Linked DNA regions of Homo sapiens. The protein of the gene in region 4 purifies or fractionates together with the protein of the main gene of each other region. This does not show direct contact. Each region holds a gene or a part of one and is shown on either strand. Other genes may lie near its edges.

The links.
Region 1: the proteins of SLC22A9 (region 4) and SC5D purify together in Homo sapiens (affinity purification with mass spectrometry; 3 studies listed by BioGRID and IntAct, with this or other methods). This does not show direct contact.
Region 2: the proteins of SLC22A9 (region 4) and ARV1 purify together in Homo sapiens (affinity purification with mass spectrometry; 2 studies listed by BioGRID and IntAct, with this or other methods). This does not show direct contact.
Region 3: the proteins of SLC22A9 (region 4) and ELOVL2 purify together in Homo sapiens (affinity purification with mass spectrometry; 3 studies listed by BioGRID and IntAct, with this or other methods). This does not show direct contact.
Region 5: the proteins of SLC22A9 (region 4) and GPR89A purify together in Homo sapiens (affinity purification with mass spectrometry, with the first as the bait; 3 studies listed by BioGRID). This does not show direct contact.
Region 6: the proteins of SLC22A9 (region 4) and SURF4 purify together in Homo sapiens (affinity purification with mass spectrometry; 3 studies listed by BioGRID and IntAct, with this or other methods). This does not show direct contact.
Region 7: the proteins of SLC22A9 (region 4) and SLC35F5 purify together in Homo sapiens (affinity purification with mass spectrometry; 2 studies listed by BioGRID and IntAct, with this or other methods). This does not show direct contact.

What each region holds. Positions count from the first base shown.
Region 1 is NC_000011.10:121,302,374-121,306,459, forward strand, and holds part of SC5D (lathosterol oxidase), read left to right. Parts: intron 1-992; 5' UTR 993-1,002; coding exon 1,003-1,212; intron 1,213-1,987; coding exon 1,988-2,120; intron 2,121-4,012; coding exon 4,013-4,086. UniProt on the Homo sapiens protein: Catalyzes the penultimate step of the biosynthesis of cholesterol, the dehydrogenation of lathosterol into 7-dehydrocholesterol (7-DHC).
Region 2 is NC_000001.11:230,985,189-230,989,274, forward strand, and holds part of ARV1 (protein ARV1), read left to right. Parts: intron 1-3,131; coding exon 3,132-3,251; intron 3,252-4,086. UniProt on the Homo sapiens protein: Plays a role as a mediator in the endoplasmic reticulum (ER) cholesterol and bile acid homeostasis. Participates in sterol transport out of the ER and distribution into plasma membranes.
Region 3 is NC_000006.12:11,041,243-11,046,049, forward strand, and holds the start of ELOVL2 (very long chain fatty acid elongase 2), read right to left. Parts: upstream 3,064-4,807; 5' UTR 2,989-3,063; coding exon 2,986-2,988; intron 2,584-2,985; exon of another isoform or gene 2,516-2,583; intron 1-2,515.
Region 4 is NC_000011.10:63,368,182-63,372,827, reverse strand, and holds the start of SLC22A9 (organic anion transporter 7), read right to left. Parts: upstream 3,044-4,646; 5' UTR 2,772-3,043; coding exon 2,370-2,771; intron 1,694-2,369; coding exon 1,590-1,693; intron 1-1,589. UniProt on the Homo sapiens protein: Sodium-independent organic anion transporter, exhibits high specificity for sulfated conjugates of xenobiotics and steroid hormones such as estrone 3-sulfate (E1S) and dehydroepiandrosterone sulfate (DHEAS).
Region 5 is NC_000001.11:145,621,014-145,625,099, forward strand, and holds part of GPR89A (Golgi pH regulator A), read left to right. Parts: intron 1-2,040; coding exon 2,041-2,147; intron 2,148-2,579; exon of another isoform or gene 2,580-2,599; coding exon 2,600-2,701; intron 2,702-4,086. UniProt on the Homo sapiens protein: Voltage-gated channel that enables the transfer of anions such as iodide, chloride, bromide and fluoride which may function in counter-ion conductance and participates in Golgi acidification.
Region 6 is NC_000009.12:133,365,964-133,370,049, forward strand, and holds part of SURF4 (surfeit locus protein 4), read right to left. Parts: intron 1,581-4,086; coding exon of another isoform or gene 1,483-1,580; coding exon 1,296-1,482; intron 713-1,295; coding exon 636-712; intron 66-635; coding exon 22-65; intron 1-21. UniProt on the Homo sapiens protein: Endoplasmic reticulum cargo receptor that mediates the export of lipoproteins by recruiting cargos into COPII vesicles to facilitate their secretion.
Region 7 is NC_000002.12:113,722,017-113,726,102, forward strand, and holds part of SLC35F5 (solute carrier family 35 member F5), read right to left. Parts: intron 3,522-4,086; coding exon 3,362-3,521; intron 1,179-3,361; coding exon 1,088-1,178; intron 1-1,087.

The DNA.
Region 1 (4,086 bases), about 58 Mb from region 4:
GAGTGAGTCGATCATAAATGATAGATTCCATAGTCAGATCACAAAAGCTGACCACAATATCACCGAACTGTATTGTAACAGGACCATGAGTATAGAATGGACTTAAATATGTACTGAACTGACTAATGTTTTTTAGAGTTTAAGCATCTGAAACAGGAGTTGGCAAACTATCTGTAAATGGCCAGGTAGTAAATGCCTTCGGTTCAACGGGCCATACTGTCTCTGTTGCAGTGATACTATAAGCCCACCTTTGTAGCAGAAAAGCAGCCACAGACAGTATGTAAACATCTGGGTGTCGCTGTGTTCCATAAAGATTTTTACAAAGCAGGCTCTGAGTTTGGCCCGTGGGCTGCAATTTACCAACTCCCGATCTGGAATATTGATTAGAGGTAGAGAAATAAATGTATTCCAGTTCTTAACACCAAGAATACATCTTCCTTTGTTCTGTCAATGGGAGTGTCAGAAGAACAGATAGTCCCAATTCTATGGTTGTGGTGGCAGCATGGATATCTTTTAGGGAATTTATCTTAGGTGTCAGTGCTGAAGCAAAAATCTCTGAAGTATGAATCCTTGAAGGAGAGAGATGAGCTGAAACTTGTAGCTGAAAGAGGAAACTATTTGTCTGAGTACCTAGTCCCCTGCATTCCCATCTTTACCACTTGCCATGCTGCCATAGGACGCGGTAGGGAATGACACTGAAATGGAATTCCATCTGGGCTTGTGCCACTTAGCAGCTTGATGACCTTTCCTGGGCCTCAGTTTCTCTAACTGAGCTTTAGCATCCCCATACATAGTATGAAGAGATTGGACTAGAGATGATATCTAAGATCCCTTCTGGCTCTAAAGATGGCATGTAGGGGATTCTGATAGCAGCAGATGTACTGCATATGACTGTTCTTAAATCAGGAACTTGAGATATAGTGTTTCTGAAAAATTTTTGCCTGGAAAAATAGAGACATGGTAACTAATTGTCACACATGCTTATTTTTTAGGGGCTAAGTGATGGATCTTGTACTCCGTGTTGCAGATTACTATTTTTTTACACCATACGTGTATCCAGCCACATGGCCAGAAGATGACATCTTCCGACAAGCTATTAGTCTTCTGATTGTAACAAATGTTGGTGCTTACATCCTTTATTTCTTCTGTGCAACACTGAGCTATTATTTTGTCTTCGATCATGCATTAATGAAACATCCACAATTTTTAAAGGTAAGAAATGTTTTTACCTATTTTCTAACGATTAAAGTAAAAATAACAATATGATATATTTCTGAGATTTTTAGATTAAGCTGATTATATGTAACCATTAAATAAAATTTTGGAGACCAACCACAAATGGGTTAGATATTTTCATGAGGGTTAATCCCTGCTCTCCTTCCCTTAGTTTAAGCAAATCTAACTTTTTAATAAAACTATAAGTCTAGTATCGTATCTTGCTAGATGCATATTGGAGCATTTTTATGCTGATATTGATGAGTAAATAAATGCATACATTTATGTAATTATTTTAATATATGATTTTCACAAACTGAAATGTGTTTTTTTACCATGTTTTGTTTTTTGGCTAGATAGGGGATTCAAACTCAGTAGTTTTAAAGTTGTTTACAATCATTTTTAAATTTCGGTTGTTTGTACTTGTCAGTGACTCCAAGGACTGAACAGCAAAAAGAAAAAATAGAGAGGATTGGGGATGGAAGTTAATTAGGAAAGAAATGGTTATTCCATAAATAGAAGTTTAGAATGCAGATTTTGGAGGAAGGAAAAAAGGTTTCAGAATTTGAAATACTTATTGCATTTTCTCAGTACAAAAGGAATGATTTTCTTACATACCTATTTTTATGTATTTAAAATTTTAATAGAAACAGTTTGGAGGTAAGCCCCTTCATGTAAAAGAGATTTTAAAAATCCAGTCCAGAACAGTTTTATGCTAGTTTTGTTTAACATGGATTTTGTGATTTTTAAGTATTGGAAATTTCACTTTCAGAATCAAGTCCGTCGAGAGATTAAGTTTACTGTCCAGGCATTGCCATGGATAAGTATTCTTACTGTTGCACTGTTCTTGCTGGAGATAAGAGGTTACAGCAAATTACATGATGACCTAGGAGAGTTTCCATATGGTAAGTAAATAACACGAGTGTCAGGAAGAGAGTAGTCTAAGCACAGGTTAGTTTCCTTAAAAAAACAAGTCTGCCCTTTTTTTTTTCATCTTTTAAAATAATTACAAATTATTCAGTTGTTTTTTAATGTTCTATTTTCATGTGTTCATGTCTTGCCACATGTGCATTTCTTTAGTTTTTCTATCAATCTGAAAGTCTGCTGTAGATGAGATTGTGTCTGGCGGAAGATTGGAGTGATCAGAGATGGGTCCTTGCATTTGTTTTCTATTAATTATTGAATTCAACCTTCTAAAAAAAACTTGAGTAGCTTATGTCATTGCTGAAAGTTAAAAACAGATTTTTAAAATGCATTATTCTGCTTCTTAGAAACTGTAACTCTTCTGGCATACAACCACCCACTTTTCTGTGCCTGTATACTTCATTGTTTACATTACACAAATGAAGTCCTGAGGTGCATAGTGGTTTGGGCTCTGAATTTTGTTTCTCTTAGCAACTTACATGGTTGTATTTTCATGTCAAAAAAATCTTGAGATTATGTAATATATTAGTCATAGTACTGTGCGGATATTCATAAGTTATGTAAATGATACCTAATTGTTAGACCTTCAGATTGTTACTCTTTTTTGTATTATAAACAGCCCTGTAGTGAGTAAACTTTTGTGAAATTCTGAAACTTTTTCAAGATACATTTCTAGGATCTAGTATGTAAAAAGCAAGAATCATAGTATTTATTGAAGGCTGATATGTGTCAGTGACAGTTCTCAGCTCTTCACAAGAATCAGTCCATTGTTTTCCTACAATTCTATGAGATAGGTACTATCACTGTGCTCCTTTTATAGGTGAGTCAATGAGGTGTACAGAGAGTTTCAGTAACGAGTTGGTGGTAGATCTGAGACTTGGACTCAGGCTTGCAGGCACCAGCACCCCCACACTTTAAGTAAGAAGTTAGTTATTGCCGGGCGCGGTGGCTCAATCCTGTAATCCCAGCACTTTGGGAGACCGAGGTAGGAGGATCACGAGGTCAGGAGTATGAGACCATCCTGGCCAACATGGTGAAACCCCATCTCTACTAAAATACAAAAAATTAGCGGGGTGTGGTGGTGCACACCTGTAGTCCCAGCTACTCAGGAGGGTGAGGCAGGAGAATCCCTTGAACCTGGGAGGCAGAGATTGCGCCACTGCACTCCAGCCTGGGCGACAGAGCGAGACTCCGTCTCAAAAAAAAAAAAGAAAAAAAAAGTCAGTTATTCAGAAGAAGGAACAAAAAATTATATACTAGAGTAATGAATTGGCTGGGCTTTGAAAAATGGATATGATTATGAGTTAAAATAAAGGGAGAGAGGACATTTTAGGTTCTTGAACCCCTATGATGAAAGATACAGAGGTAAAACTTCCAAGACAGTGGGAGGACATTGAGTAAACCTGCCTGGTTAGAGTAGAAATACAGGAGTGATGAGGTTGGAAAGATCCGAAAGGGGTGGAGTATGGAATAAATGCTAAATTTAAAGTATTTAGTGGAAAGTATATTTTAAGCAGGGAGATAATGTGTAAAGATGGGTTTTAGGAAGATTAATATGAAGGAAGTGATGATTCCCAGAGATTTAAATAATAAAGATGTCTTAGGAGTATCCTGTCTCACAAATATCTTTATAGTTTAATTAAGAAGTACTTTAGGTAGAACATTTCAAGTACTTATGCGAGGGAAATGAGGAAATGACCAGATTCCAAGAAGCCAAGAGAGATTAGTTTATAATATACTGAATTAGCCAGAACAGATCATTTATAATGTTTGAGTCTAGGATCCCATTTTGCACTCAGATGGACATGTGAAAAGTGAACTCTAATCCCAGGAGCTGAGTTTTGATTCTTCTGTTTCCCGTTTTCTTTTCTAGGATTGTTTGAACTTGTCGTTAGTATAATATCTTTCCTCTTTTTCACTGACATGTTCATCTACTGGATTCACAGA
Region 2 (4,086 bases), on a different chromosome or scaffold from region 4:
TCTCAGCATTTATAAAACATGCCGAATGCTAAGAAGGGAAATGGGCAAAGCACACAGCATATCACATACTACCAGAAGCTGCCTCCTCTGTTTGATTTCATATCACCCTGTGCTTATCCCATTGTAGCCGTTGGATGTTACATAGTCTGATGACTGTGGTCATGAGACCATATCATAGAGGCATGTTTGTCTTCTGCTTCTAAACTGTTAGATCCTTGAGGATAGAAACTGTGGCTGAAGGTGAATATCTAGCACCTTGGAAGTTCCTGGTCCATAAAATGGCCAAGAAAAGAGAACGATTGTTATACATGTAATAGCCACTCCAAAGACATTTGTCAAACAAATGAATGCAAAAGGAATAACAGCTGCTGTGTCTCCTGGTGCTGGTTTCTGCCTACCTCCTTCCAAGTATTGTCCAGATCCCCAGCCTTAGACTTGTGATGCTGTCCAAAAACGGGTTTTAGAGAATATTTAAAGGACAGAGAGAGGACCCCTGACTTTTTAGGGTTTCCATTTTAACATGAAGCAGCCTCTCTGGTGTCCCAGTCTTGCATGTAGAAAGGAAGGAGATGTGTTCCATGTGAGTAGCCAAGGGAGACCTATCAAACAGCTGTTTGTCATGGACATGGAATTTCTGATTCTGGGGCTTCTGTTTAGATTCTGGCTTACTCCCTGCTCAGGTAAAGAACTGCAAAAATATTAACTCCTTATGCGTCAGTTTGATTAAGCAGAATTTTTTTTTTTTTGAGACGGAATCTTGCTGTGTTGCCCAGGCTGGAGTGCAGTGGCGTGAACTCAGCTCACTGTAAGCTCCGCCTCCTGGGTTCACGCCCCATTCTCCTGCCTCATCCTGTAGTTGCTGGGACTACAGGCACCTGCCACCACGCCCTCCTAATCTTTTTGTATTTTTTTTTTAGTAGAGATGGGGTTTCACCATGTTAGCCAGGATGGTCTCGATTTCCTGACCTCGTGATCCACCTGCCTCGGACTCCCAAAAGTGCTGGGATTACAGGCATGAGCCACCATGCCTGGCCCTGATTAAGCACATTTAAGTTTGAGGTAACAGCACGTCTCCCTTCATTGGATCACTCGGTAACTGGAAAACATACCTATTCTTGTAATGACACAAATGAAGTGGAGAAGCTATTTAAATTGGGAACACATCCAATGTTTTATTACATTTGAATTGCAGGGTCGGTATTCTTCAGTGCCCTTCATTTTTCTTCCAGCACTTTAATGTAATTAAAAGGCCAGCCTAGAAGGTTTTTACACTCGCAACTCTTCTATTTTATCTTCTCAGAGTTTCCAAATGTTATGCGTTTGAATTGTAGCCATTCCAGTAGTCCCCGTTCTCTTTGGGGTATATGTTCCAGGACCCACAGTGAGTGCCTGAAACCACAGATAGTATGGAACCCAATTACCATCCATCGGAACACGTTTCTGTTCGTGCCTTCCACCCACAAATGTAATACTTTTCCTATTTTTTTTTTTTTTTTTTTTTTTTTTTTTTTTTTTTTTGAGAGAGAGAGACCGAGACAGGGTCTTGCTTTGTTGCCCAGGATGGGCTCGAACTTCTGGCTTCAAGCGATCCTCTCACCTCGGACTCCCAAAGTGCTGGTATCACAGATGTGAACCATGGCACCTGGCCCTGCCTTTTCCATCTTAGCACTTCTCACATACTGTGGCCTTAATTTTTGCAGTTTGAAATGCCACAGCAAAACTAGCACAATTTCTTTTCTTTACAGTTGCACAGGTAGAAGATTCATTCTTACTGTAGATCTTAACCTCAGCATAAGATTGGTTTTTTCCTTATTAGTTGAGAACTTTCACCTTTTCACTTAAAGGATTTTACAGCTTCTCTTTGGCTGTAAAATTGCCAGCATCACTACTCTCATGCTTTGGGGCTATTATTAAGTCAAAGAAGGGTGACTTGAACCACAAGCACTGCAGTACTGCAATCCTCAATCCTGTTAACCTGGACAGCGACTAGATGACTAACAGGCGGGGAGCATCTGCAACGTGGACACGCTAGACAAAGGGATGATTCACATCCCGGACAGTGGAGCAGGACAGCATGCAATTTAAAACTTATGCTTATTTCTGGATTTTTCCATTTCATATTTTCAGAATGCTGTTGACCTCGGGTTACAAACTGCAGAAAGCAAAACTGTGGCTACGGGAGGACTGCTGTAGTTTTATAAAGTGAATGGTAGCATTGATGCATTTTTGTGAATAGTACTGCTTTAGAGGTCACATTTCTAATGAGCTTGTTTGTGTATACCTGCGTTTTTTATGTTCTAGTGATGTTGGAATTTGGTAACATTGTAATCACATGTGTCTAGAGAATCTGAACTCAAAATTGGTGACCCTTCAGGGGGGAATAAAGCCATTTAATGTGAACTGCTAAGAGCCAAGGGAGCCTTGATTCTGGAACCTAGAGCTAGGCTGCACAGCCTAGTTCCTTGCACAGCCCAGCACTCTCCAGACTGTACAGACAGTAGAGTCTGTCTCTACTCTAGCAGAGAAAGACCATTTTCTTTCCATATCCTTGATGTTACTGGAGAAAAACCCAGGCTTCCCCTGTTACCGGCCACCTCAGGATCATTCGGATCATGCCCCATTCTTTACCTACTTGCAGCTCTCAGTAGTTCTGGGGACAAGGTAACTGCTGAGTACTTTTCTCCAAATCATGTGCCAAGAACCATAAAGTCAGGGGCATCTAGCCAAGAGGCAACAATTTATCAATGAAAGTGCATTATAAATATATTTATTTTGTAATAATTGCTACAAATTGAAAGTGGAATTGGACATAGAGTCTCTGTAGATTGAAAGTAAAATCTTCTGGAATACTTTCCTGCCTAAACTCAGTCTTTAAATTAGATATATTTTTAGCTTCTTGAATATGACGTTAAAATATTAATATTCCTAGCCTAGAAGATTATATTTAGTCCTTTCTGAAACCCTTTCTTATATAGATGAACATTTTGTATCTGAATGGAAGTTTATATAAATAATTGCTAATATGGCCATATTGCTATCTGTGTCCAAAATAGACTCTGCTGTTTTGAAATCCTTGAGGATTTCAGAAAGTATACATTTGCTTGTTCTAATATTATCTTGTATTATTTCAGAAATCCTGCCAGAAACCTGTAGACAAATATATCGAGTATGATCCTGTTATCATCTTGATTAATGCTATATTGTGCAAAGCTCAGGCCTACAGACATATTCTTTTCAATACTCAAATAAATGTAAGTTGTGATAATTTCATTTTTTAATTTTATTTGATGCTGTTACATTTTAAAAGAATAATAAGAATTTTAAACAGAAGTAAAGAATATTATAAAAGAGGAAAAGAAATTCTAATGTGAGAGTGGGTCTTTTATTGCAACATATCTGGAAGTTTCTAGAAATAATAGATGTTGATTTTGAAAGGTGCACAATGCTTAGTGAGTGTTTAAGAATATGGTCACTGGCAGGAAACTGACAAGCCATGATCTGAATTACCTGCTAGTAAATTGAAACAATCATCACTGGTTTTTAACAGAATACAATTAGACATATCCAGGTAGGGAGAGAATTATACCTAAATGAGTTAAGCAAACATTAAAAGAAAAATGTTTTTTTAAAACATAATTTATTGCATTTTATACTTTGCTATTAAAGGAATGTATAAGGTAAATAACATTCAGTTTAATCAAAGTCCTGATTTATAAAGTTGAATTTTTCAAAATAAACTTTTAGTTTATTGAATTGTGAGCTCTTTAATAGTTTGGGTAGAGTTGACAGATAACATACAGGACAGTCAATTAAATTTGAATTTCATATATACCATGAATTAATTTTTTAGTATAAGAATGTCCCAAATATTGCATGGAACATACTTATACAATAAAAATGGATTCATGGTGTGTGTGAAACTCAAATTTAACTGGCGGTCCTGTTATTTTATTTATTTATTTATTTTTGAGACGGAGTCTTGCTCTGTCACCCAGGCTGAAGTGCAGTGGCGTGATCTCGGCTCACTGCAGCCTCTACCTCCTGGGTTCAAGTGTTCTACTGCCTCAGCCTCCCAAGTAGCTGGGA
Region 3 (4,807 bases), on a different chromosome or scaffold from region 4:
CTAACCCTGAATAGCAGGGCCCTGTTTTCTGAACATAACTAGATACATAATATCTACTTGACACATTTTCAACATTCTCTTTCGGAACATGAAAGCACCTGAACCTCCCAAACTGACTAAAACGTTTTGAAGGAAACTAGATTAAATGGAACCCTTGTTGAAGAACCAAAAATTAGGCTTACCCAACTGGATACTTTAAAAATTGATTTTTTACTCCTTGAAAATGCTATACGTTCGAAGAATCGAAAGAGAAAAAGGCTGGATACTTTGGAATCCTAGGAATCCTAACAGTAAAATATCCTACAAATAGAAACTTAAGTCAATAAGGTATCTTTCATTCATCTTTGGTTGGTTCATTGGTTTTAATTTCAAAGACAAACTTATATTTCTTTCCTTTTTACCTTTAATTTCTACTACCTACCTGGGAAAGATGGTAACCACAGAACTGCTGAACTTACATAGTCATAGCTATAATTACATAATTTTCAAAAACTTATGTAAATTTTATTAAACAATTTGTTTCCAATTAATACATTTCTCCAGACTAATTTTTAAAAAACCAATGCCATAAATCCACATTATAGAAAAACAAAAGGAAATTTGAAAGAAAAAATATTTATTTTGGAATAATAAGACTAACTAGCAGAGATATCTTACAAGACAGTTCATATTGGACATGTATTGAAAAGGATGTCTCTCTGAACTGACCCACTAAGTTATTTATAAATTCAACCCCCTAACTTTCCTACTCCCTGCCCATTTTTTTTTTAAAGTAATACGATTTCAGCCGGGCATGGTGGCTCATGCCTTGTAATTCCAGCACTTTGGGAAGCCGAGGTGGGTGTTGATCACTTGAGGTCAGGAGTTAGAGACCAAACTGGACAACATGGTGAAACTCTGTCTCTACCAAAAATACACAGATTGGCCTGGTGTGGTGACGTGCGCCTGTAATCCCAGCTACTCAGGAGGCTGAGGCACGAGAATCACTTGAGCCCAGGAGGTGGAGGTTGCAGTGAGCCAAGATTGCATCACTGCATGCCAGCCTGGGTGACAGAGTGAGACCCTGCCACAAAAAAAGAAAGAAGAAAAAAGTAATACAATTTGGATTTGGGTATTAAAAAAAAATTCCTCTGAAGACCCACAGTTTCTGAGAAATACTTATCTAAACAGGAAGCATCACACTTGGGCAGGATAAAGCTTTCAAGAGCTTGCCCTTGATTTTAGCTCTTTTAGGTTAACATTCCCATGACTTTCCTATTCAGCTAAAGAGATTTCCTTGGACTTATTCCCTTACTCACTACAATTCCTACCTATACTTTAGGACAAAGCTTCAGAGCCCAAAAGGAGAGCCAGTTGGTCCTAAAAATGCTTTGTCCACTCTGATGCCAAGGTGCAAAGAGCATGAAGCGACAGACAAGGCATAAGAGATAGCCGCCTAGACTCGTCATTGAAGGCTGCCAAAATCGGGTCCCTCCTGTCGGGAGTATCTCCCTCCTCCCAAACTTCACTTGAGACTCTCATCATTACAAATGTCAACTGCATAATCTTTGCAGTTACTCCCCACCTGTGCATTAACATAAAGCAGCTTGCTTTATTGGGTTAATTCAAAAGAGTTATCAAGTACCTACTGTGCGCCAGGCACTGCTGTAGGTACTAGAAATCTAGCAAGCAATGAACGAAATGACAAAAATCTGTGTCTTCCTGAAACCTATATTCTGGTAGAGGAGACGTTCAAGAAACAAGCTAAAGAAACAAAATATGCAGTACGCTAACTAATACATGCTCAAGAGAAGACAAATGAAGCAGGCAAGGGGAATATACACTGTGGTGGGCGGGGTAGGAAAGGTTGGAATTTTAAGATTAAGTGGTCACACATAATCAGGCAGATGGTACGTGCCTAAAAGGGTAGCCAGAGCAAAATCAGATGGAGTGGGGAAGAGAAAGGAAGTGCGCTTATTTTAACAAGTCCTGAAGTGGAGAGAAAACCCTACGGGAAGGGGGTGAGGCAAACACTGAATATGGACCACTGAAGACAAACGCGGATTTCACATTTTGCCTAAAGACCAGTCCTTTGAGGATGGCACAACAGATGTTCTCCCTTTGTAACCAAAGAACCAGGCTCTGCTACTAAAACTGTCAGGCAGTTCATCGGACACGGGTGAACACACACACACACACACACACACACACAGCTTACTGTCAGGCAGTTCATCGGACACGGGTGAACACACACACACACACACACAGCTTACTGCCGAGGAGAAAGAAGCGTTACTAATCCAGAGTGGAGGACTGGCCTGGGAAATCGGGCAGAGAGAGGAGTTGTCGGAAAGAACACACCAGAAGCCCCTCCGAGCCCAGACACTGATAGAAACCCAGCCGCTTCCCAAGCCAATCTGCAAACCCAGGAGGCACCCACGAGTGCACAGACACACCCCCGGGGTGCAGGCGCGGTGAAGGGAGGAGAGGGGCAAGAGCTTGACCGTTAGGGCCCGAACCCCAGAACTCCCGAGGCAGGGTGTGTGCCGCGCGCGGGAAACGCCGTTCTCCGCTCCAGGCGTCGGCGGGCGGTGGCGAGAGCAGGTTCGGGGGTCCGGAGGGTCGGAGGGTGGGCTGCGCGCGGGAATGGCCGCCGCGAAGGAGGGGCGGCTTCCTCGGGCATCCCGGGCGCCCGGCCCCGTGCATGCAACAGGGGACTGGGCGCGAGCGGGCGCCTCGAGGTGCCGGGGCGGGACCGGGGAGAGGGGACCGAGACAAAGTTCCCGAGACCCGCGGGCCTCGGGCCGACCCGCGCGCCCCCGGCCCAAACGCTCAGCTCCCGCTCCCCAGGCCCGCGCGGACCCGGCCCCTCCGAGGGTAGCGGGTTCCAGCGGCGAACCCGCAGCGCCCGCGCCGGCGCCCGCTCGGCCCTTTCCCGCCCGGTGCGTGGGTCCAGGAGAGAAAGAAAGCGCGGCGGTGTCGGTGGCGGCGCGCGGCCCCACTCACCATGATCCGCAGCGGCTGTGGCGCGGCGACCCGGGCGGGCGGCGATGCGCTGTCCAGGGTAGCCGGGTCCCTCTGCCCGGCGCTATCTCGGCGCCCGCGCCGGTTACCCCCACCCACACCCACGCCCGGCGCGCGCACACCCGCCCGCGCCTCCCCGCCCCCTCGGGCTCGCGCCGCCGCCGCGCGGCGCTCCGAGCCTCGGGGCCGTTTCGTCCCCGCCCCCTCTCCCACAGGGGCCTCGCCGGCCGCCGCGCCAGGAGGGCGCGCGGGGGAGGGGCGCAGGGCAAGTGAGGCGGCGCCCCCCGCCCCTGCGGCCTCGCGCGCCCCCTCCTGGGCGACCGACCTCGCCCTCGCGTCCGCGGCGTCCCCTGCCGGCCGGGCGGCGATTTGCAGGTCCAGCCGGCGCCGGTTTCGCGCGGCGGCTCAACGTCCACGGAGCCCCAGGAATACCCACCCGCTGCCCAGATCGGCAGCCGCTGCTGCGGGGAGAAGCAGTATCGTGCAGGGCGGGCACGCTGGTCTTGCTTACAGTTGGGCTTCGGTGGGTTTGAAGCACACATTAGGGGGAAATGGCTCTGTTCCTGCAGGTTTGCGCAGTCTGGGTTTCTTAGGTTTAGGGGGTTGGGTGGGTTTCTCTGGGGGTGCGGTGGGAAGCGGATCAGTTCGGATAACGGCCCTGAGCAAGAGTCTCTGTCCCGCTCCCGGCCTGACGCGGGGCTTCCAGCGGACACGACCAACGGTGAGCGCACCCTCTTCACTGTGAACAGAACGGTGGCCTCCTAGAGCCTGCGCTTCTAGTTACTTTAGTTGTGTGTGTGGCCCAAGTGAAAGACGTCGAAAAAATTGGACTTGCCTGAGTATTACATGAACTTTCTTCCATTTCTCCCTCAAGCATGGGAAGTTGGCGGGCGTGGTGGTTCCCTCCTGTAATCCCAGCACTTTGGGAGGCTGAGGCAGGCGAATCACTTGAGGTCAGGAGTTCGGGACCAGCCTGGGCAACATGGCGAAACCCCGCCTCTTAAATAAAAAATACAAAAATTAGCTGGGTGTGGTGGCCTGCGCCTGTGATCCCAGCCACTCGGGAGGCTGAGGTGAAGGATGGCTTGAGCCCTGGAGGTGGAGGCTGCAGTGAGCCGAGATCACGCCACTGCACTCCAGCCTGGGCGACAGAATGAGACCCTGTCTCAAAAAAAAAAAAAAAAAAAAAAAATGTTTACCACATGTGAGGCTCATGTGGTAAACATGTTTATTGGGGTTGAGAGCAGCCCGTGTGGCTGTGCACGGAGGTACCTGCACCATACACTTAGCATCCCACACCTGGGGCGGTGTGGGAGCCCTTGCAGAGTTTTGTGCAGTAGCAGAGTGAGTAACTGTAGGTACCGGGGCTAAATCTTAACTGTCATACAATCACCTAATATATAGTTTCCTAATAGAGAGTTTTTCTTCCTAATATAGAATTTCTGTAGCTGAAGTGGTAAATATTAGGCATATATTTGTTTATAAAAGGCGGATGATTTTATGACCATAAACAGGTTAACCTAGTCTGATAAAAATCTCAGGAGTCAGCTCTGCCACATACTGGGTGTGTGGTATTGGGTTGGTTACCTAAACTGTCTATGCTCCAGTTTCCTGATTTACGAATTTGGGATAAAATAGCACTTAACATTACATGTAGCTGTTAGGGTTAAATTAATATGGGTAAAACTCTAGAAAAATATCTGGTACAAAAGTACTAGTTATTGATTTGTTATCAATTTGATGCATTTGAGAATCAGAAAGTGATATTCTATTTAATGCTGGCATATTTTTATAAAAAAGTGTG
Region 4 (4,646 bases):
TTACTATGAAAAAGTTAATTATCTTTACATATATGTACATAATTTACATGTAAATTATCTTTACATATGAATTAGAAATAAATTAATAAAAAGTACATGACTTTTATCATAAACTATAAAATATTGCAAAGGGAAATTAAACAAAAGTCTACCTTAATTAAAAGCAATATTATATTTATAGATCAGAAAATTCAGTATTTAAAAAATGTCAGTCTTACCCAAACTGCTGTTTAGATTTAATGCAATTCCAATAGAAATCTAAAGGAAATTAGATTTCTCCCTTTTCTCACATCATAATGTAGTTCCTTGTTTTTGACTTTTACATTGGTGGAACACTATAGTATGTAATCTTTTTGTTGGTCTTGTGGTACCTAACCAAATGGTTTTGATGTTAATTCACCTTATTGCAGACAGTACTTTATTCATTCCCTTTGCTGTAAAAATTCATTATGTGAATATCTGCTTATTTATTAACCTATTATTAATGAAATTATAGATTATTTCCGATTTTAAGATATCATAAACAGTTGAGTGAGTTATTCCAAAACAATCAGTTTGATCATAGCCTACTCTGCATATAATCACATAATATTTCCTCTTAGGTTTGTGAGAAATACCAAAATCCTTAGGTTATCTTGTCCCTTCGTCTTTAGCTGATTCTCCACTGTCATCTCCTGCCTGGCATCTCCTACCCCTTCTTTTACCACCCTGTGATCTATTAAAATTGGTCTATCTGCATTTTCCCAGGACAGTATCACAGAGGACTGGGTGACTAACTATTGGAAATTAACCCTCTGACTCTTAGCTCATTCTACATTCCATTTCCTGTCGTACATTCAAGGTTCAAATTTTCAGGTGAGACACCAGAAGACATGATGTTGGTGGATGGCAAGTGGCACTTCAAGTCCCTCATCGCCATCAGGGGAGACATGGTTGGGTGAAGGTAATTGTTCCCTGCCATGTCAGGAGACATACAGCAAGGTGAATACCCCAAACTTCTCACACCACAGACTGAGATAGTATTATCCTTGGATTACTTACCTCACATGGTTCTAAAAAGCTGTTTTTGCAAAGACAATAATCAAGTTTCTACACATAATTTTTCAACACACCACCAATGATACCTTCAAATATACCCTACAGGTTTTAGAGGAATGCGTGTTCATCACACTTGGAACTATGATGTAATGACAATTCTCTGGGCACAAGCTATCAGCTCACAGTGTCCAGGTAGGACTGGACCTGGTACTCCTGGCCAAGGCTGAATCCTATGTGATGAAACGTCTTCCTTTCTATTCCCTTAGTTAACTCTTTCTCATATTTCTAAACCACATGTTGTGGTACCTTCTCTCTAAAACCTGTCTTGAAACACCCCCAGTTCACATGGAGATATCATTTCTGTGTCCTGCATACAGAGCTCAAATTTTAAAAATAGCACTCAAAACACGGACTAAAAATTTCCTTTTCTGTTTGGGGATCAGGGCAGCCTCAGGAGAATGTAATTTGCAGTAAGTAATTCTAGATGAAATAATGTTTCATAAGTTGATAAAAAATGCCCTTAAAGAGAGCTGTGTTCCATACACACTCACCTGTCTGATAAATGACCGCCTAGGATGCCTCCCACCATCATTCCAGCCATGAATACAAATTTAGCCACTGAAGTCAGTGATTGAGAGTCACATACCAGATCCCACTGGAAGAGAAGGAAGCCAGCACATCAATGCTTATTACCCCTCAGTGTAACTTGATCAAAACTTCTTAGCATGATCTGCAAGTTTCCTAATATTAAGTCTCTAACTTCCTCTGTGGCTTCCTTTCTCAGCATTACCTGACCTTTGTTATTCAGGTCTCAACTTAAACATAACTTTCTCTTGGAAGACTTTCCTAAACCTATAGGTTTTTATTTCATACTAAATGGTTCTCAAACATGACCACATGGTGCAATCACTTGAAGACCTTTAAAAACTTTTAGAAACCTAAATTTCCCTCTTAGACCTTCTCATATGATTGTTTTAGGGTATACTCTGGGCATGGAGGCTTTTCTCAATTTCCCAGATATTTCTAATTTGCAATGACAGGCTGAGCATCACTGACCTAGCAGAACATTTTAACATATTATATATAAATGCTTGTTTAAACTTTGGTCTCCCTGTGACTTAAAGCATTATAATAGCAGGATGCCTTCTACTTTGGAATTCATTACTCAAAATGTGTAGGTGTCAGACATTTAATAAAGAAGCAATTAGTATTTGCTGAAAGAATGAAGACTAAGGACCTACATGTGACTGAAGGCTGGAAGCATGATTATTACTTGTGTTATTCTAAACACCCAGGTCACATACTCATGAGACGAGAACAGAGCCTCTTACCTCAGTCACGATGGTGGATGAGAAGGAGATTCTGTCATACACCCAGCCATCCACACAGGGCTCCATGTCTGCGTCACTTGTGTTGGGGAAGGTCCCATTCAGGTGAAGGAGCTGCCACTGAGGATGAACAAAGCGACGACACTTCTCTGGCCTCATGTTTGAGTCCAGTGGGATGGAGATTCTCAAGAGTGCATCTTGGCTGAGGGCCCCAGTGTCATTGTCAGAGACAGTGTCATTGTCCAGGATGTGGACCCAGCAGCGATGGCCAGGTATGAATGCAGTGAAGTTCTCCAGCATAAAATGAAGGTATGTAGCAACAGCAAAGATTGAGAGAAAAACAGTCTGAAGGATCTGGAATCTCCACAGGTCACCAGCGTGACCCAGGAGGTCCTGAAAGGCCATTGAGGTTGAACAGTTGATCCTCAAGTAGAGGCAAAATGACTGTATCCAGAGAGGTTCAAAGAGGGAAAATGTTTTCTTTCCCTAAGTCACACTAAATGTGTTTTGATCCTGACCCCACTCTCTTCTTGACGACTGTGCTTCCCCTCTGCAGCAGGACCGTGGAAACAGTTTCCTCAAGTCGTTTTGGGGTCAGATAGGTAGCCGTTTTCTCTAAAGTCACGTAAGAAATAATTTGCTCAGATACTCCCAGTCGTTTACAATGAAATGTGTTTAAAATTCTACTTTTTCATGTCTTTAGTAGCTCCCAAAGTCAGCACTGGACTTTGGTCTACACTTTTCTGTAAACAAACTAAAATAAACCTGCTACATGGTATGCGGTCATTCCAGGAAGCATAATTTTGGCGACTCAAAGGTGAGGTGCTTTTTTTACTTCTCTGAAAACAACAGAAGGCAAGTTTTTCCTTGTTAAGTACCAATTTTTGATTAAGAGTTAATCTAAAAAAGTCGAAGTTAAACTAAAATAAGGGTACTGTGGTACAATCCTTTCATTTTGGTGACTGATGTTCTCCTTCATGTCAAATCACACCACAAATTCATGCTGGAAATACATTGCTTGAAATGTGGACAGAATAGATGGTGATGAAAAGCAGAGGAGTAAGCTCATATGGAGGTTTACTTTTACTGGCTTATTGATTTTTCAGATAGTATTTGTGAAGACCTTTTCCATGCTAGTTCCTAAAGTAACGTGTGTGACAAGTTCAAGGATCTTATAGTTGAGTAAGTAAGAGAGAGTACATAAACAATTGCACTCCAACATTATAAATATTATGTGAGATGCACTATGTGCTGTGGAAGAATTGGAGGCAAAATATGGGAGAAAATGTCACCTTGATTAGGACTAAAATTTCTATTAAAATTTAAACCTCCTTGAAGTATAATTCATTTACCATACAATTTACCCTTTTAAAGTATACAATTGAATGTGTTTTGATCATTCAAAGAGTTGTGCAATCATCACTACTATATCGTTACAGAGCATTTTAATCACCACATAGGAAACCATACCCATTAGCAGTAACTCTCCATTTTTATTCACACATCCCACTTAGCAACCGCTAATTTACTTTCTGATTCTAAGGATTTGCCTATTGTGGACATTTGATTTATACATTGAATCATAAAATACTTGACTTTGTATATCTGGCTTAATTCATTTAACATAATGTTTCTTTTTCTTTTTTTTAAATTATACTTCAAGTTTTAGGGTACATGTACACAACGTGCAGGTTTGTTACATATGTATACATGTGCCATATTGGTGTGCTGCACCCATTAACTCATCATTTAGCATTAGGTATATCTCCTAATGCTATCCCTCCCCCCTACCCCCACCTAACAACAGTCCCTGGTGTGTGATGTTCCCCTTCCTGTGTCCATGTGTTCTCATTGTTCAATTCCCACCTATGAGTGAGAACATGTGGTGTTTGGTTTTTTGTCCTTGCGATAGGTTGCTGAGAATGATGGTTTCCAGCTTCATCCATGTCCCTACAAAGGATGTGAACTCATCATTTTTTATGGCTGCATAGTATTCCATGGTATATATGTGCCACATTTTCTTTTTTTTAAAATTATACTTTAAGTTTTAGGGTACATGTGCACAACGTGCAGATTAGTTACATATGTATACATGTGCCATGTTGGTGTGCTGCACCCATTAATTCGTCATTTAACATTAGGTATATCTCCTAATGCTATCCCTCCCCTGTCTCCCCACCCCACAACTGGCCCCGGTGTGTGATGTTCCCCTTCCTGTGTCCATGTGTTCTCATTGTTCAATTCCAACCTATGAGTGAGAACATGCGGTGTTTGGTTTTT
Region 5 (4,086 bases), on a different chromosome or scaffold from region 4:
TGTTCTAAAGTAGTTGTTAACCTAGAGGAGCAAAAAGCTGTCAATGTATCTAGTCTAAATGGTATTCACTCCCTGTAGGGTAGCTTTTACTGAATGGCTCTTTGTTTCGTGATGCCTGCCATCTGTACTAAGGAAGGAACAATAAGAAACAGCCCTCTGAAACATATTTCTCTTGAAAGGATGTTGTTGATGACACTGTTAATTGCCTTTGCATTTTCTTTATGAAATCTTTGAAGAAATTTCATTGTAATCTTGTTAATAATTCAGTAACAATAAATGATAATTATGCTTCCTTTGAGGAATTAATTTTTATTTTCTTACAGACATGATGATTTTATCTAACTGATCAAATTTTTTATTTCACATTGACCATTAGAAAACTTAAAGCTAAATTTATGACCTACCCATAGCAACTTTCTAGAATTCTGTTTTATAATAGCCATCAGGCTTGGCCCAATATTTTACCTGTTACCATTGTTGTTCATATTTCCTTATAGTTCATTTCATCATCCTGTATTTTATTTATCTTTGTAAGCCATTTAACCACTTAGGCCTTTTTTGAAACAAGGCTTAAGTAAGTTTAAAATCAGTAAATACAAAGGACACCATCAAGAAAGTGAACCAACATTCCAAAAACAAGAGAAAATTTTTATAAATTACCTATCTGATAATGGACTGGGACTCGTATCTAGAATATATAAAGAATTCTTATAGTTTAATCATATAATACAATTAAAAAATGAATAAAGGATCTGAATAGGCATTTCTCCAGAGATGATATACAAATGGCCAGTAAGCACATATGAATAGATGCCCAATACCATTAGCCATCAAGGAAATGCAAATCAAAACCACAATGAGATACCACTTCACACCAACTAAAATGGCTATAACCAAAAAAAAAACAGAAAATAACAAGTGTTGGCGAGGCTGAGGAGAAACTGGAACTCTCATACACTCCTGAGGAAAATGTAAAATGATGCAGCCACATTGGGAAACAGTGGGAGTGCCTAAAAGATTAAATATAGATTTATCATATGACCCAACAATTCCACTCCATTTCTACCTAAAGAGAAATGAAAACATACGTCCACACCAGAATGTATACACACACATTCCTAGCGTCTCTATTTATAATAGCTAAAAACAACCCAAATGTCCTCAATTAATGAATGCAGAAACAAAATATAATATATCCATATAATGGGATGAATATTGTTCAACCATAAAAGGAATTATTGATAGATACTACAACATGGATGAACCTTGCAAACATTATGGTAAGTAAAAGAAGCCAGTCACAAAAGATTACATATTGGTGGTTTCCTAGAAACAGAAAGTATATTGGTGGTTTCCTAGAGCTGAGGAGATTGGGGAGAAACAGGGAGTGACTGCTAATGGGTACAGGGTTTCTTTATGGCGTAATGAAAATGTTCTAAAATTGATTTAGGTGATGGTTGCACAACTCTTGAGTATACAAAAACCATTGAATTGTACACTTTAAATGGGTAAATTATATCTCATTAAAACTGTTATAAAAAGTGCTAACAAAAAGTTTTAATAAATGAAGTACATCTTATAAACTAATAAAAGTAATTCATGCAAATCAGGTGTTTATATCAAGAGTACAAAAGAAATATTTTTGAGTATAACATATATTACTGTTAACATTTATTTTCCTTTAATTCTTACATTGGAATGAGATTCCTAGGGGTGGGTAAAACAATAGTCATTCTACCAGCAATGGCATATGTTGATACATGTTAATGGTATATGTTGCCTATGAATATATCAAAAACATAAACATTCTTATTTTAATATATGAAATTCTTAAGATGTTAAGATGGTCATATATACCTTTCAAAAATTTGTATTTTTTAATCTCTACAAATGAGTAGATTTTAAGAGCCTAGTAGGCTGATTAGATAGGATATATTCAATATTGAGTCCAAAGAGCAAAAGGACCCTTTGGAAGACTAAAGAGAAAGAAAGTTGCTGCCCTCTCTTCCTCCCAGTGACAGTCTTTGACATTTATTTCAGCTCCCGTTATTTTCACTGGAAAATGAACCTGTGTGTAATTCTGCTGATCCTGGTTTTCATGGTGCCTTTTTACATTGGCTATTTTATTGTGAGCAATATCCGACTACGTAAGTATTTTACCCTCTCAGTCAGCATATAGATTGAGATGAGTATTTGAGGGGACTTAAATTGTGGATAGCTTCATTTCTACATTAACTTTCAGTATCTACCGCTATTTGAGGATACCTCACACACAACATCTTAAAAATAAATATAAAATAAATATTGAATGAATTGGCACAAAATAAATATTGAATGAATGATTAGGTTATTTGTTCTGCCACAGCTTTATTTTTCTACCTATTAATAATGTCTCCTTTAGTTCATCCCACACCTTAAATTCAGCTAAATTTCTCTTACGATGGTAAGGATGCTTTCACTAAAAATTATGCTGTTCATCAGTCATTTGCCAAGTGAATTAGCAGCCAAATATTAGTTAGCATTATCTTATATTTTTAAATAGAGCAAGCTCTTTAACCTATATCTGTTTTTCCTAACAGTTTTGTCTCCTCTGTCTCAGTGCATAAACAACGACTGCTTTTTTCCTGTCTCTTATGGCTGACCTTTATGTATTTCTTCTGGAAACTAGGAGATCCCTTTCCCATTCTCAGCCCAAAACATGGTGAGTATATATAGGAGGGCAGAGGAAGTGGGGGGAGACGATTTGTTTAATTTTCTGATTTCAAAAACAATTAATTAAATTTCTTGGGGAAAAAATGTATTTGGGGAAATAATTTATTAATTCACAGGTTCTTGGGATTTGGAAAAAAATTTTTCTGATTGAGGAGGATAGCAAGCTATTTCTCTGAAAAATGTCTGATTTTGAACCACATTTTCTCCTTCATTCTAAGAGATAACTAATGCTGGTTTTGGACCTCACTTCTGTCATTCTAGAGTAGGAATTTTTGACCTTCATTTACTGAATATACTTAAAGGGTATAAGGAAAGAGAACGGTGTCTAACTCATATTGTATATGGAACTACAGGAATATATTTGTATGTGTATTTGGAGGTAAGGTATCAATAAACTTTTATCAGATTTGGGTAGCAGATTTGGGTCTGTGACCCAAAAGGTAAACGGCCACTGCTTAAGTGATGATAAAGATACATTAGGGAAGCATATGTATTTGAGGAAAGGTGACATAAAACACCCACAATTAGTAGATAAAGAAAAGCTTTCCAAGAATCGGTGTCTCCCCTCTAACAAAAAAAGTTTATTTTAAAACAAGAAATTTGGCAGAGCCCTAATTTTTAAGCTAAAAACAATGAACAAAAGTACCTCAGCTAACAAGTCCTTCCAGAACTATTTCAGAAGTATGTATGAATCTATCTAAAAAGATTAGAGAATCTATCTAAAAAGATTAGAGAGCCCATCTGTAATAAATATACTACAGGTTTCATGCTGGAACCTTTTTAAAAAAATCTATATATATATACCTCTTTATTCACCATCCTGCCGTACCTATTACTAGGCTTCTTATTGCAGAAAACAGAATCTACTGTAACTAATTTAAAGCAGAAAGTGATTAATTATACAGTATCAGGCAATTTATAGACTTTCTAGGAAAGTAGGGATGCAAAGCTTAACTGCTATATAGTGAAGAGAAATACCCAACTATGCCACAATACTAAACTAGAAAACCTCACTGAAGTTATCACCTGCCACTCAGGGTCTATGACATCAGGGACCTCAGTCCCAGCTGTTTGAGCTCCTAAGTGCTATCACCACCCCTACATTGTTCATTTCTGCATCTGAGGCCTCACATGGGCCGGGTTTTTTGGTGAAACCTAGGTAATATTTAAAACCTTGGCCTCAAGGAAGTCTGAGAAGGGGCTTTTGGCTTTCTAAACTCTGTAGTACCAAAACAAATGCTGGAAAAGGATATTGGAATTAATGTTGAATGAGCCAGTGTCTATTATAGAATCTGCCATACCTCCCACACACCCTTCCATGTATACTGATTGCCTATAGCAGGAATTTCGGGAGAGAGGTTATGAGACTCTCCT
Region 6 (4,086 bases), on a different chromosome or scaffold from region 4:
AACCAACCAGAATGCACATACCTCATCAAAAACTTCAAGTCCCATAAAATGCTGTAGGCAATCGTCTGAGGGGAAAGAAGAGAGAGATACTTGAGTCTCAGCCTTTCCAAAGGCATTTCCACAGACTTCATAATACATTAGGCCGTCTCTCCAATGTCAGCTGGAGTCTAAAACACACAAAACCATTGTAGGAGACCGAGGACAGATCTAAGCTCAAAAATGTGGTTCTGTATTTCTCAAGAAATGTGCTATGATGTTCCAGAGAACAAAGTGATTCTGAGACCACTGATGTGGATTCAGATATTCTGTTCCCAGCATTTCATTCTGAATAACCAAGTATTCTTCTTTATGAAGCAACGTGATAACAAGACAGCATCCTGGCTGCAGCCAAGCTCGAGACTTCCCTTGTCACGGTAATCATAGAAATGGGACAAAAGATGGCCCAGTACCGAATGACCTGCCTCTACAGCCCTGCTTGGGCTCACGACTTCCCCAGAAGAGAAAGGAGCTCCAGGCAGTCAGAGACATGCAGGGGGCTGAAGGGGGAGTGACACTGAACCCTCAAGGATGTCTTTTCAGAAGCTCTGCTCCACCAGAGCAAAGAGAAGGGAGCCCCGACCACGCGGCCCGTGTACCTGCAGAGCTATGATTCCAAAGAGCCCGAAGCAGGCGTACTGCACGAAGTTCCTGCTCAACACCAGGACGCAGCCAGCTGGAGAGAAGGACAAGGGTTAGGGGGCCTGAGGGTGGGTGCCGGCGGGGAGCACTGTCTTGATACACTGCTACCTCACCTGGCCCTTAGGTCCAGAGGCAGCCAAACCACCTACCCAAGCAAAAGACAACTTCTGGAAGAATTAATGATAGGCAAGGACCACACATGGTAAGCTGACTAGACTTATCACAAACACCAGAAAGTGGAGCCCTTGCCGTCATAAAGAATGGGCTGTTTCCCACAATCAGCTCCCAAGTCAGCCACCCACCTGAGGTAGGCAATTAACTGCTCTACTGTGGACTGCCAGCCAGACTCCAGCATCTCCTGCTTTGGGTCCCTGACAGGGACCATGTCCTATTTCCTTAGCAAGCTCTAAAGCAGTGAGCTCAGGGCTAGAGACTAAGCGTCCCCACCAAGGCTTGCAGAACCGGACTCCTGGCCTGGCACAGCTGAGCTGGAGAAGAGGGGAATGGAGGGGGGACAGCAGTCCAGGAGACCCCCGAGTTCACACACAGCCTCCCAACTGCTAACGATCATGGAACAAGACGCCCAGTGAATCCTGACCACCCGCAGAGCCACTCACTCAGCTGTCCCAGCAAGTTGAGGAAGACGAAGGACGAGGCCAGCAGGTAGCCGCAGTTCCAGGTGGTGTCGATGTAGTCGCGCTGCTCGCTCCACTGGAACCACATACGGATGCCGTCCTCCAGGAAGGTGCTGATCAGACAGAGGCGCGCCACGTGGGGCAGGTACTGCTTTGTGACACGGAGGAACTGCAGGGCCACAGAAACCCAAGGGTGAGGTGGCTGCGGCGGGGAGCACCAGGCCGCTGCCAGGCACGTCCTTGGGCGGGGTGTGTGAGGAACAGACGCTGTGGAAGGCAAGAGCTCTTGTCAGCCCCGGTGCCTTCCCAGGGCAGACTAGGGGGCTCTCAGTGCTTGCTCCTGAGCGCTACCCTGTGAGTCTGGACACATGCAACAATCCAAGGATCAGTCCCGGAGATGCATGACTTGACGTTAGGCCCTCTGGGGCAGATCCTATAGGGCAGCAGCCCTAACACTCTGCTACCGTGATTTCCCCCAGTGCCTCGGCAGGCAACTACAGTCTTCCAAGGTGGCACTGCCACAAGACACAGAGCTGCTCTTTTCGGTCAAAGGCATTTACAAGTTGGAATCACAGAATGACATCTGAAAAGGCACTTAGAGGTCATCTATCCAACGTTTCTGCACCTCAGCACTACTGGCATCTGAGGCCAGGCCACTCTTTGCCGTGGGTCATCCTGGGTGCTGCAGGCTATGACGCACGACATGTCTGCCCACGACATGCCAGCAGCAGCCTCCCTCCTGAGGCACCGCTGCACTTTGCCAGGCATCTCCGCTGCTCTGGTCCAACCCCTCACCTTACAAATGGCTATATTAAACCCAGCGGGAAGGGGTTCCCCTAGGCTTCGCAGACCTGATGGTGCAATGCCAAGACTTGACCCCAGCCTGCAGGTCACACATGGCTGAGGTGCCAAGGGCCTGGACCTCCCAGCCTGCCCAGTGACGCCCAGAGTACCCTGACAGAACAAGGGTTGGCTTAGGTGACAGCCAGGGTGCCACACCTAGAGGGCCACATGGTTGACTGAATAGTAAGATCACGTTTACAGTTATCCGAAAATCTCCAGAGCAGCAGGAGGAGGCCCCAGGCTCTGGACAGCGCATGTGTGCTGTTGCAAACCAGGGCTGGCGCTTCCCAGCCCGACGGAGCTCTCCCCTGCAAGCTCAGGATCTGACGTGGGGACTGTGTGTGCAGCAACCGTCAGCGCAGCATGAAGCTGGTACCGCTAATGGCTAGAAAGCGCTGGGATTTTGTCAAAGCCTGCATAATCTCGAGCAAATTAAAACACACTAACAAATGGGATGGACAGCTGTTTCAACAGCAATGAAACGCAAGTGTGTGAAATCACTGTCAAATGTCAAAGGGAAAGAAAACATTTATGACTTCCTGCTGTGCTGTGAGTCAGGTCATTTATGACGGCTGGGTTAGGTAGCCAACATGCACTATCGGATGCCAGGTACAAATGTCACGCAGGTTCACCCCATGCACTTTTCTCTTATCACCCATGCAAAACTGAGATATAAAGTGAAAGAAATACTGTAACACAGCAAGTCCTTCGGAGAAAGATCAGGGGACCCATCCACCAACGCATGTTGGGAAGCCAGAGTCTAAAGAGCACCCGAGAGGCTGACCCCCACGGGAGGCGAGCGAACGTCAGCTGCACAGGCCTCCTAGGGCTGACTAAACCTACTGTTGGAACAAAGGAAGATATGCGTGTTTCTTATTTTTCAGCATTTTTAAAAGTTGCTTCAAAGTCCTAGACACTGCTGAAGCTGCCCATCTCAGTTACCACGCCCCTGGGTGTTCAGGTCACCCTCCAGCCTGTCAGGTGGGGCCCTGACTAGGTCAGCACTGCAGATTGGCTCCCATGTGGCAGAGAACGGAGGCAGAGATTACAAAGCCAGGTGGCCATTCTCCCCAAACCCACTGCGCCCTGCAGTGTCAGTTCTGCACACATTTACTCAGCCTTTGACTCCACGGAAGTGATGGGAGAAATCACAGTGACCGACAGATACCCAGAGAATCACCAAGTGGGTTTGGGAGATGAAGTGCAGGTGGAGGTTCTGAGGCCCTGTGATCTCATCCTGCCCTGGTACCATCCAGCCAGCACACCGTGTGACCTGGACACGCCCAGTTACTTTTTTGAGAGTGTCTCTACTATCCTGCAGTAGAGTGAGGCCACCTGAACTAATGGTTGGTAAGATGCTTTCCAACTTTACTAGGAGGAAGACCTTGTTTCACTTTTTATTTTTAAAAAGGCCCCAAATACTCCCCTGTGAATTTTAGGGCCAATGCAGAGAACCAGCACAAGATGCCCATGTGCACAGTGTGACGCAACCTGCATCACACTGGGTGGTGGGAAAGGTGACGCCACACACCCTCCCCAGGTTCTGCCTCATGGCCCCGTTGCTCTCTAAATGCCCAGCAACAGTGTAATCACCCATATTCCATGGAAGAGAGAAAGCACACCACCGTGGCACACGATGTGCCACTGCTCTCAAGGAATGGCCTCACATCGTGGCCCAGCTGGGAAGCCCCAGCAAGGACACAAGCCTTTATCTCATCTGAACCTGGGGAAAAGCAACCACTGGGAAGGAAGAGCTCAACAGGAGGCTGTCCAGACCTCTGAGATGAGACGGAGCCGTGGTGGGACTCCCAGGGCAGGGTGTGGGTGTGGGGCGTGGACCCCAACAGCAGCAGAGAGGTAGACTGCAATCCATACCCAAGACAGACACCAGAGGTGTTCTGACTTGCTTCTAAAATGAGAGCTGTGAGCC
Region 7 (4,086 bases), on a different chromosome or scaffold from region 4:
CAGGCTGGAGCGCAGTGGCATGATCTTGGCTCACTGCAACCTCCGCCTCCCGGGTTCAAGTGATTCTCCTGCCTCAGCCTCCCAAGTAGCTGGGATTACAGGTGCACGCCATCACACCCAGCTAATTTTTGTATTTTTAGTAGAGACGGGGTTTCACCATGCTGGCCAGGCTGGTCTCGAACTCCTAACCTCAAGTGATCTGCCTGCCTCGGCCTCCCAAGTGCTGGGATTACAGGCGTGAGCCACTGTGCCTGGCTAAGACCTAGAGAAAAATAGGTTTAAAATTTTGATTATTGCTTGTACACATTATAAGCCTTTGGGCCTTGAAGTATTTCCCTCTTCAAATTATATTAGACTAAAACACACATACATACACACACACACACACACATACTTCTGTGACTTAGTAGTTGCAGTTAAAAGTTAAATGCCTACATATACTGAACTGTGTGATAAATGGCTATGCTCCATCTTTCAGTGCTGGGCAACAGCATACCTCTGTTCTTCCTGCTTCACCCAAGAGCACTGAATAAACTCTTCCCTTCTAGGCTGCTGGCAGAAACATCCCAGATTCTCTTTTCTGCGGTGTTAGCATTGCCAATATTTATCACAAGAATCCCCACATCCATACTAGGCCTTCAGAGAAAAGGGATGGGATACCCACTCTGCTGAGTCCAGAGAGAGATGGCTAACTTTTACTGCAAACAGCATGATTCCTGTGCTGCTCATTCAGCACAGTGTTAAGGAGCCTGTGATAGGGTTTATCGCAGAAACTAAAATGCTTGTATGATAAAATGTGACTTACCAAAGAACATCTGGAACAGAATCAGCTCAAAAACTGGAGAACTACATATGAAGATGATGCCCTTAACTTAGAAATTTAGGGAAAAAAATGGAAAAGCTAAAAATGGAAATTATCTATTTCTTCGGTACTTTCTATATTTCTATGTAGTAAAGCACCTTGGGAGAGAAAGCATCAAGTATTATTTATGTTTGTATCCTTATAATTTAATCACATCTCAACTTTCATTAGGTTTGTTTTAATAACACACCTAAAATATCTATGAATAATAAATAGTTTCCTTACCTTTTGCATACACATGTCAGCTATTATGGACAGAGGTATTGTAAGGCTTAGTGCAAGTGTGCCTATCAATGATGAGGTAAGAAAGCAGCCCCTAAAAAAAAGAAAATATACATTTCTATATTTAAAAAATTAAACCAAAGAAAAACACTGAACAAAGACTTTCTATCCTATAATATAGGCCTGTGAGATCAGGAGCAAAGATAAGAGGCTAGGATGGATTGAAACATAAAATATAATAAAGTTATTAAGATGATTCTCAGTTTTTCTTCAAATATTAAAAATACAAATATATAAGTATAAAAAGCTCAAAATATTTTATGCTATTTTCAAGAGCTGTTTGCAGATCTTATTCAACTTTGGGTGTATAGCTTATATTTCATTAATTTTTTTAAAAAACTGTTGAACAGTTATTACCGTTTTGTGATGATTTGTAGATAACAAAGAAAACAGCATTATTAACATTGCAGGACAATACTTCACACATAGACTTTAAGGAAGTGATAAGCCAACATGTGATTCTGTCACCAAGCAAAAATATCTCACCTTCATGAACACTAAAATCATGTGTTACTCTTTTGATTTGGCTTGGCATAAAAAAAGAAAGACTTGAATATTCTTAAAAAATATTTTCTTGTTGTTTTCCATTTTTCTAACAATTGTCCTAACCAAAAGCTAAGTAAGCTCTTTATTTTCACCTTGAATTAACAATGTGGGTATGAAATTTTGAAATATCTATCTGCATACAATTTTGTTGAATTGAAAGAAAATATTATACCCAATGGAGACAGATGAGCCATTTATAAAGACTGATAATTTGGGCATATAAGGAGAAAATGAATTATAAGCCAAGATAAAACCATAATGTATATTGTTAGGACTACAGATCCATGGAAGTTATAGGCAAGTAAAATCTAGCTCAGTATATGTCAGAATTAATAGTGCTGTCCTGCAATAAAAGGGGCTATCTCTCAATAAAGTGTCACTAGAAGTAATGAACAGAGGCTGAACAACGAGTCCTTATTGATGAGGTAAAGGAAACAAGTACTTGTGGTTCCCACTACTTAGCTGCTCTGTGAAAAGAGCATTCGGGGTCAAATACAGCATATGTTCTTGGATGTTTATCATGCAGAGTACTATAATAAAAAACCTGGGAGGTAGAATTATAAAGCCTGTTTGACTTAATCCAGCTGTTAAGGTGGATCCAATTTAGCTAAAGGCTAAAGCCTTTTGTCATCTGTTAATAGTTAAGGTTAAAAAAATCGAGTATCTAAAATGTACATAACTAAAGATGAAAAAATTAATGAGCAAATGGATTATGATTTTAAAGAATTTTAGATCAGCAAAGGAGTTTAGATAAGAACATAAATTACTACAATACAAAGTAAATCTTTAAGTATTACACAAAAGAGAGTGATATGGGGGATACCAAGAAAATAGGTATTTCTTAACTGGGCAGGGAGACAGCACTGTAGGCAGAGCATTAAGGAAGACTCCACAAAAAAGTCTATTTCTGTTGCAGTCTTTTGCAAGGGAAAACTAGTTAGCAGTTTCAATGGGTATGTAATAAAACTCATTTTATTCACTTAGGTTTTATTCATTCTATTCATTTCAAGTTTCTATTAAATAAAAATAGGACTAAGTATAAAGCTCTGTTATTTGAAAGGTCTCTCAAACTCCATACATGATACTGTCTTCATACTATTTTAAGTTTATTATCGCATATCAGTATATTGGATATACAGCATATCAAAGTATGTTAACATCTCAAATCAATCAGAGTTTAAGGTTTACATATCTGGCTCACCCATATGAAAGGTTCTGAAAATAAATAAAACAAAAACACCTATGAACAAGCAAACAGATATTCCAAAGCCTCTTAAATAAGCAGCATCTCCTGGATTCTCAACTAGAACTCATGCACTCATACTTGGCATACATACCTCATATGTTTGGATATCCATTAGATAATGACTACTTTCATTTGCATAACACTCCACTTTCTAAAACATTTTTACAGATTTAGACCATTCATATTCATTCTTTCATTCAACAAGTATTTATTGAGCTCCTTCTGTGGACAAGGTACTACTCTAGAATGGGCACACAGAAGTTAAAAAACAAAGTCCCTGCTCTAGTGGAGTTAAAGTATTCAGTTGTATGTGTGTTGCAGAATGGGGTGCACAGGAAGGGCCACCAGCAAACAGACAAATATAAATGCTTAAAATATCCAAAAATTAATCAACTGATAATAATTGGAGAATAAACAGTACATACCACAACCACAGGAACTCTGAGAGTACTGTTCCAATAAGGCCATTAATGATAATGCACATTAATACTACTTTATTGGGAAACTCGAAGTCCTCAAATCCAGTATAATGAAGTAAAAAGAAACCTGGCCATAAGAGCAGCAGATTAAACAAACCTACAAAACCTGAACATGTATAAAAGAGACAAGAGTTAAAATTGATTTATTTCTATTTTCCAAGCTTATTAACTCTAAAATCAAAATTAGATTTTGCACAAAAGCACTCTGGGAGGTTTCCTTAGCTAAAACTTCTGTTGGTTTGTTTTTAAGTCAGTCCTGTGAATAGCTCAACGCCATAGAAAAAAAAACTGTCTGAAGCAACTGGTGATCACTCAGTTCAACTACCCACATTGTATGGGAGCAACTACTATGGAATAAACCACTTAGGACAACTCAACAAGAAGGGTTGTTAACCTTAGCTACTGATAATATAGTGCCCTAGAACTTAAAAGAAATAACTGGTATGTATGTGTTTGTGTACTCAGCCTAAATTAATTTTGAGGAATTAGATGGTTTGCTCTCTGATTCAATTATTTATGTCCAAAACACTTGTGCTTTGCGAGCAATAATGGAAGAAGGTTCCAAAGGAGATAAAACTCTTGGTTCCTGCATTCCCAGACCTCTAACTAGTTAGTGAGAAAGTATGTACACACAAAGAGCTATTCAACGTATGAGCAAAGTACAGACTGAC